Regions from separate parts of the Homo sapiens genome. Here region 1 is linked to region 2. The links come from fine-mapping of genetic effects on gene expression. A gene starts in region 2. The other region holds a variant in brackets. All regions are shown on one strand. Distances are from middle to middle.

The links.
Region 1: its variant is fine-mapped to the expression of MCM3 in prefrontal cortex (GTEx, PIP 0.95).

Annotation. Positions count from the first base shown.
Region 1 is chr6:53,131,501-53,135,897 of GRCh38, reverse strand. It overlaps GCM1 (glial cells missing transcription factor 1), which reads left to right. Exons shown (of 6, transcript NM_003643.4): 3 at 1,574-1,826; 4 at 3,779-3,891. Among named protein-coding and RNA genes, the nearest start is that of GCM1, 15 kb to the left of the region's middle. The variant G/T (reference allele first, on the strand shown) is at 2,761.
Region 2 is chr6:52,282,738-52,287,134 of GRCh38, reverse strand. MCM3 (minichromosome maintenance complex component 3) reads left to right here and starts at 2,393. Exons shown (of 17, transcript NM_002388.6): 1 at 2,393-2,538; 2 at 3,729-3,841; 3 at 4,274-4,397. The coding sequence starts at 2,461. RefSeq lists enhancers at 1,916-2,115, 2,436-2,515.

The DNA of each region.
Region 1 (4,397 bases), 850 kb before region 2:
AAGTTCTTTGGCACGTTCTAAATTTGAATTCTAACTCAGTAAATGCCCGTCAATCCTGACACTGACATTTACTTTTTTCTTCTAAAATTTGTCTTTTTTTTATGTTGTGGGCTGTGCTTTCTGGTTGGGAAAGCAAAGAAGAAGCAGCCTAGTCTTTTCTTCTGGACCTTCTAGAATCTTCTATTTTCACCTTCTAGAACCGTCTAGATGAAAAATGTTCTTACACCATGCTAAGTCTCTGAAAGCCGTAGGGCATGGGCACAGCCTAAGTTTGAGTGCTGACACTGCTTGCTGTTTCTCATTCTAAGAACAAGGAAGGGTCTGTCAAATGCAGCATCTGTGCACCAATGTAGGGCCTAGGAATATGAGCCACAGCATCAGTGACTAACAATTATTTAGAGCTTACAGCATGCTAGGTGCTGTGCTAAGTATTTAATATATATAATCATATTTAATCTTCAGAACAACTCTTCAGGTAGGCAGGTCTCATTATCCCTACATTACAGATGAAGAAACAGAGGCACAGAGAGCAAAATAATGTATGCTATAAGGACTGAGTGTCTGGTGTCCCTGGCCTTTCTTTAATTATTATTTTATTTTGGTCAAAAACACAACTTAAAATTTACCATCTTAACCATGTTTAAGTGCATAGTACAGTCGTGGTAACTATATGTACACTGTTGTGCAAAGGAGCTCTAGAACCTTTTCATCTTGCAAATGGAAACTTTGTCCGTTGAATGACAACTCTCCTTGTCTGTGATGTTTTAAAGGAGAGTTTAGTCAAATGTTCATACACAGGGCATAGCGCCAATCCTGGGCAATAACAGAGACGCTTTCAGTCAAAACAAGCTCTTTCTTACTCCCTTGTCATGTTTGAGGCACGTGAACGTAGGGTTAAAGATAAAGGAAGAAAATCTCTGGGGAAGAAAGTGGCTCTTTGATCTCTCTGAACCAGGGCTTTTCATCCCTCCCACTGCTTATCTCTGGCGACATTGCATAAACCTGTGTGACTCCCAGTAAGATAACCACAGAGTGGTACGAGACATTATCTCACTATCCCGCCACAATGTTTTCCACAGTTTATTTTGAGTTTTTAGAGAAGGGGTCTTGCTGTGTTGCCCAGGCTGGTCTTGAACCCCTGGCCTCAAGCCATCCTCCCACCTCAGCCTCCTGAGTTGCTAGGACTGCAGGCACACCCTACCACACTGGGCCCTGTTTTCTATAGTTATTGTGTAAGAGCATAGCATTACTTAACCTTCAAAAATTCCTACTGAGAAATGGTCATTTCTTGTGTCACTGAGGGCTAGGGAAGTGTCAATCAGATGGAACTCACAGGGGCTATCATTTATTTTGGTCCAGCGGCTGAATGCCTGACAGACACAGCACTCAGTTGCCACTGTTGTGCTGGGCTCGCTGATCCCACTGTCAGAATTAAATGTAGGGAGGCTTTTGCCAAAGGTCTCTTGCCCAGCTCCTGAATGCCAAAACATCCTTCCTATCTACTCACTCCACAGTGGGTGACAGCTGTGTTTTCTAGCTTAAAGTATAGTCGTATCTTTTGTGTTTCTATCAGAACGTGAAAAAAACCGACTGGTTCCAGGAGTGGCCAGATTCCTATGCCAAACACATCTACAGCTCGGAGGACAAGAATGCGCAGCGGCACCTGAGCAGCTGGGCCATGCGCAATACCAACAACCACAACTCCCGCATCCTCAAGAAGTCCTGCCTGGGTGTGGTGGTGTGCGGCCGCGACTGTCTCGCAGAGGAGGGGCGCAAGATCTACCTGAGACCTGCCATCTGTGACAAGGCCCGGCAGAAGCAGCAGCGTGAGTAGAGCTTAGTGGCACCAGCAAAAAAGCTGGCATCCCTCAGATGCCCCTGCCAGATGGGTCACTGTGTCCCAGCACCGCCCAAGGGCAAAACCATCACCCTGGAGTGTAGTGGCAGCCAAGGCTGTTCTGACATGGAGCATATGGAGCGGAACCAACCAGATCCCTTGTGCTCCAGCAAGGACCCCACATATCTGCCATACCCAGAGCACCCACCATCAAAAATGCCTCCTTGGGTTAAGGCACTGGACTGAAGGCTCCTGTTAAAGGGAAGATGGCAGGTGTGGTGGCTCACACCTGTAATCTCAGCACTTTGGGAGGCCAAGATGAGAGGATAAATTGAGGCCAGGTGTTCCAGACCAGCCGGGGCAACATAAGAAGACCCCAACCCCTACAAAAAAATTTAAAAATTAGTCGGGTGTGGTTGCATATGCCTGTGGTCACAGCTACTCCAGAGGCTGAGGCAGAAGGATTGCTTCAGCCTGGAAAGTCAAGGCTGCAGTGAGCCATAATGGAGCCACTGCACTCCAGGCCGCACAATAGAGTGAGATCCTATCTCCAAAAAGAAAGGAAAAATGGCCGGGCACTGTGGCTCATGCCTACAATCCCAGCACTTTGGGAGGCTGAGGTAGGCAGATCACCTGAGGTCAGGAGTTCAAGACCAGCCTGCCCAATATGGTGAAGACCCATCTCTACTAAAACACACAAACACACACACACACACACACACACACACATTTGCCGGGTGTGGTGGTGTGTGCCTGTAATCCCAGCTACTCGGGAGGCTGAGGCAGGAGAATCACTCGAACCCAGAAGGTGGAGGTTGCAGTGGGCCAATGTTGTGCCACTGCACTCCAGCCTGGGTGACAGACTCCATCCAAAAATAAAAGGAAAAATGTATCCCTTCAGGGGTTAATGTTAATTCATCAAT[G/T]ACCCATGTAAAATTTAGAAGAAAGTAGTTTATTGGACTTGCCACTGGACTTCTTGTGGGTCCCTAAGTGATCTCAATGTGTGCATTAATGTGGAGTGGCAGCTGTGAAAGGTTAGACTCAATTCCATTCATTTAGGTTCACATCATAATCACGTGCTGAGATATTTGTTCATTTTCTAAAACACATTCACTGGATTATGAAATAGATACATTCAGCATGCCCTGTACATTGCCCACTTCAAACCTCAAGTTACTTTATATTTTTCCCAGTAGTTTGTTTTAAAAACTTGCTCTTAGGTCAGGACCTGGTATCAGTCATTTACACCTCTGTGAAAATGTAGTAGCTGCATTCACTCTCCCATGTAGCTTGGCCCCTTGACCCTTAGTTCTAATTGTGAAGTGAAAGAACTTCTCTTTTTTATTTTTGAGACAGACTTTCACTCTGTCACCCAAGCTGGCATGCATTGGTGCCATCTCGGCTCACTGCAACCTCCACCTCCCAGGTTCAAGCGATTCTCCTGCCTCAGCCTCCCTAGTAGCTGGGACTACAGGTGTGCACCACCACGCCCAGCTAATTTTTGTATTTTTAGTAGAGATGGGATTTCACCATATTGGCCAGGCTAGTCTCGAGCTTCTGGCCTCAAGTGGATCCGCCTGCCTTGGCCTCCCAAAGTGCTGGGATTATGGGTGTGAGCCACTGTGCCTGGTCAGAATTTCAAATATCACTAAATAAGTAGGGAGGGGTTTTCTGCTCAGAAGAGCTCTGCCTTGACCTGTGAAATATCCTACTTGGTAGGCAACCACTTCCCCTATCCATGTGTGAGACCCATGTGGGCCATTTTAGTGGCCAGGCTTCTGAGGGTCAGGGGTAATATCTAGTGGATTTCAGCCCATGAAACTCTGCCCAGATTTATACTCTGCCGTCCTTGAGTCAGGGCTAAAATCTTCAAGACTGCACAGGAGTCAACAACCGACATGGTTCAGCCAGGTGTGGTCATTTTCCTCTGCTCTTTTGTAGGGAAACGCTGTCCCAACTGTGACGGGCCTCTGAAGCTCATCCCTTGCCGAGGTCATGGGGGCTTCCCGGTCACCAACTTCTGGAGGCACGACGGACGCTTTATATTTTTCCAGGTTGGATTTTTGAGTTAGTTACGTGAGAGTTTCATTACTGAGGAGTTTCACCAGAGGCTAGAAATGCACCTGTGAATGAGATCCTGCACCATCCCCGAGGGCTCACACTCTAAGAGAGCAAGTATCTGTCCCCTGCACTTCTAATAGATGTTTGAAGTGCTGGGGAGCTCTAGAAGGGGAGCTGCCTGTCTCTGCTTCTACTTCTCAGGAGAAGTGGCAGCTAATCTAGTCACACTGAGGTTAGCACAGTGCTTCTAAGCATGCCGCATGCTGCATGCTGCTGGTAGCCTTCAGCAAATCTGAGTTTGAACACCAGCTCTGACTTTTTACTCGGTCTTTAAACCTGAGCAGGTGATTTTCCTCTTCCACGTCCCAGTTTTCTGTAGAATGTGTAAGAGTACTAATGGGGCAGTGGCACCAACAGTGGTGAAGAATGGACCCTGACTCAGACTGCCTGGGTTTGAATTAGTGGGATGCTGGTAAACCAGCTCTCCAAAAAGAAAATG
Region 2 (4,397 bases):
GGGTATTTTTTGGACCCTGAGGACATAGAAAAATGGCAGTATTACATCTATTTTGCAATCTCTTTGCAATCTTGTTTTCTTTCCATTCTCTTCCTGTATACTCTGCTCTCCAGGGAGCCCCCTAGCGTTTAGGCAGCCTTGGAGATGGGCTTGAGTCCATTAAAGTCTAGGGTGGAAAGAAAATTGAAATGGAGGAAAGCAGGAATGTGACCCAAGTATGGAAACTGTAGATACACTACTTTATTAGATTATATGTGCTTTTTAATTTTGAATCAGGATAGAGGAGGACTACGGGCTAAGCTCAGCTGGACTTTTTATGAGATATGTACAAATGCCCCTAATTTTTCTGTAGCAACAACCTGATTGATTTTGGGCAGTTTGCAGGTGTCGGGGATAACAAAGGAAATACATTTCCTCTGCTTAAAGATTTCATGCCCTAATGAAAGAAGGGAGAAACACCAATTAAATAGCGGTGTGTCCTTCACAGCTGAAGATGATTATATTGGGACAAATCAAGTCTTTATCAAAGACCATGGCATGATTAATTCATTAAATAGAATTGTCTTTACATAGTTTCCAAATTTGCCATTAGCTCATGGAATGTTAGAGTAAGACAGATTATCAGAGATATTCTAATTCAGTTTCTTCATCTTATACTGTATATAAGGAAACAAGCCCAGAAAAAAGTGTGAGAATCAAAGATGTGGTTTTCAGATTTCCACTCTTTTGGACTTTCTACTACAAATGACTCGACTTCTTTGCTAGTTTGAACTAAGCTTCCCGGTTCTTTTAGTGTTAATTTCAAATTGTTTCCAGAGCAGAGGATATCTCAGTACTCTGTCCAATAAGTTCATAAAATAAGAGTTATGAGTAAAAAGTCTTAATAAATCAGTAATTACCTCTTGCTATATAACGGCAAACAGTATCTTTATTCTAGAATTTTCTTTTTTTTTTGCCCGTTAATAAACATAAAAGCAAGCAGTCAAATGACAGCCTTTTTGCTTTGGCTAAGGATCGATTTATCTGCCCACTAGGATGGCACAAAACATACAGTAACTATAAACTGAATAATAACTAGAAATACATATACCCACACAAATAGATGGCCTATATATTTTGTTTAGGCAGATTATTCTTAGAATATTTATCAGTACATAGTGAGTCCTGAAGACTTTAAAACATAAGCTAATAGTTGGCTGAAATTTCAGATAAAGAATTATCAAATGTCTGATGTTGGGCAATCCAGTATTTCAGCTTCTTGTTCAGTAAAATTAAAAACACATGCTGGGGCAATGGGCTTGCTCTTTATTGTGCAGAGTGGTTACATGGGTGTAAGCACAGGTAAAAATTCACTGAGCTGTACACTTAAGATTTGTGCATTTTACTGTATATACATTATATCTCAAAATAAAACTAGAAATATAAGAAAAAGCCAACCACGACGGACTGAAAACAAACATACAAATTTGGACGTGCGATGATCTTTTAGTCATTATGGTTTCAGATTTGCTGTTAGTTACTGATTGATATTTAATCAAAGTGACGTGAAACACTTTTTCCCCTCTTGAGCTGATCGTTCAGTAAGCTAAGTTACTTAAAAGGATCTTGTGATCTTTTTATAAGACCAGAAAGCCTTTAATTTACCTGTTATTAAGTAAGATGGAGTAGTAACGGTTTCCAAAATTTGTATAACACACGATGAAGTCTCTAGGGGGCAGGGTAAACACAGATTTTTTTTTTCACTTCATCCTTCTCTGCGGCGATGTCTTTATGGAGTTCGTCAGGCAACGGTATCAGATAGCAAATGGGTTTTTAACTAATCTTTCCCTAAGGTACTGTAGTTCTATATTCTATCCTATAGATTCTCAAAATCCACTTTTACACTAGGATGCCACTGGAGGGCAGTTCTGATTTGGATATATCTTAAAAATGATTTGCTTTTATGTTTTCATCTCCCTGCGTTATAAAGCACCATCCTCTGAATTTGGTCGTTGCATCGGGTCAAAAGTTCTGCAGCTTGAAAAACCCTGCAAAAACATCCGGAAAGGAGGGAGAACACTACAACTCCCAGAACGCAATGCTTTCCCTCTCGCCAGCCTGTCCCCTCCAGCTGCTCAATGACCAGCCTCTGTGAGCCTCCTCTCAGCCCTATTGGTCAGTTTGCTCGTCAGTGAGTGAGGCGGAGGGAGGGGAGGAACAGAGAATCCCGGATGGTACGTTTCCCGCCACCGCGGGGCGCGCAGCGGAAAACCCGAAGAAGAAGAAGCTTTTGATTGGACAGTCGCTAGTCCGACCTCAGAGAACTCAGCCAATCATAATGCTTATATGCTCCCAAGGTCCCCGCCTCTTCCTCGAGGTAACCTTTGGTGGCGGGAAGAGTTCGGAAGTTTTCGCGCCGGGGTGGAGTCATCCTGGGAACCTCCACGCGACTTTGGTGGAGGTAGTTCTTTGGCAGCGGGCATGGCGGGTACCGTGGTGCTGGACGATGTGGAGCTGCGGGAGGCTCAGAGAGATTACCTGGACTTCCTGGACGACGAGGTGAGGGAGGCGCCGGCGCGCGGGCTCTAGCGCTCGGAGCCCCTGCGGACGCGGCCCGGCCGGGAAGCCAGAGGCCCGCCAGACCTCCAGACCGTGTGCCGCAGCGGAGCCTGCCGGGCCCGAGCCTCCAGCCCCAATCTTGTAACTTCTCAACGCCGGACTCGCTAGTTTGTGTTCGATAAGTGAACTCTTAGGAAGCCAGCTTTCTCTTAAGTACAAGCGATGGTCCGGGCGCGCAAAAGGCGACAGGTTCCCATTAAGTGCAAGCAGATTGGCAAAGCCCACCTCGGCCTTTTGCATTTCACTGCTCTCTCTTGATTTGAGGAGACTGTGGGGGAGGGGCTGCCCTAGGGCTATAGTGACCAGCCGCGTTGCAGAGTGCTCAGATTTTAGGGACTGACGTTTTACCTGGAGGAAAAGACTCCATAATTCGGCTGCATTCTTTTTCAATACCAACTAAGATGCAGATAAAAAGTGTTTTGTGTGCAGGCCAAGGGGATTTTATGTGCAACCCAAGACTTAAAGCCATAGAATGTTGAAAAAACCATCTTGAAGGGTTGATGATGTGACCAAATAGCTGAGATTCTCTATTCCTTTAGGTCGGGGTATGAGAACCCTTTCCGTATTATAGAGATGATTGGAAAAAATATTACTTTTTACATAATTCTTAAATGAAAAGCCATTTTAATGTGACTATTAAGAGTCTGTTTTATTTACATTTTTATTGTATATATTTGAAGTGCACATGTTTTGATATACATGGTGAAATGATTACTACAGTGAAACAACATATCCATCTATTCACGTTGTTACCTTTAACATTCACATTGCTAGGTTTAACTTAACATTTTAACAAAGTTTGCACTTACTGTCCATTTAGACTTCTCATGAGCTCATTTTAATTCTCCACTAAAGACAGAAATTACAGCATGCAGAAAAGTTGTCCATGATGATGGGAATAACAGCATGGACCTTGAGGAAGTCATTATAATTCTTATAGTCCCCTCTTAGGGTGTTATTTCGAATCTAAAAACAGTGAATGAAAGGGAGAAATTGATGAGCACATACTTACTGGGGATTCAGCTCTGCTGCAGAGATTGACTTAGCTATCTGGCTATGAGAACTACTTCTGTTTAGAAACATTGTTTTTAAATTTGTGGCTATGGTGATATGTGGTGGCTGTTTTGCAGGAAGACCAGGGAATTTATCAGAGCAAAGTTCGGGAGCTGATCAGTGACAACCAATACCGGCTGATTGTCAATGTGAATGACCTGCGCAGGAAAAACGAGAAGAGGGCTAACCGGTGAGAGGCAAGGGGATATACTGGCTGTCAGTGAGAATGGCTCCCTTCCCTCTTGGCCAGATTGGAACAGCCTCTCAGGAGAGGACTTGTATGAAACAGGATTGATCTACAAGCCCTCGTAGCTCACCTGCACCTATTTTTTTTTTTTTTTTTTTCAAAAAGTGGGTGGTTGGCATTTTCCTCCCAAATGCCCCTCCTTCCAATGTTTAGCTGAATATCATTTTTATATCTTTGATAAGTTGAGGTGAAGTTGGTCCTTAGTTCTGGTATTTTACTGAGTCTTATAGGATGGTGTTTTACTGAGACTTATAGGAGAAAGCAGAAGCTGGATTTTCTCATTGTTTTTAATGATCTAAGAATGTCTGCTGTTTTGAGGATCCATTTTTTTGAGTTCTGCCCAGTCTAATTTTTCTTTCTCTTGCTTATGTACAGGCTTCTGAACAATGCCTTTGAGGAGCTGGTTGCCTTCCAGCGGGCCTTAAAGGATTTTGTGGCCTCCATTGATGCTACCTATGCCAAGCAGTATGAGGAGTTCTACGTAGGACTGGAAGGCAGC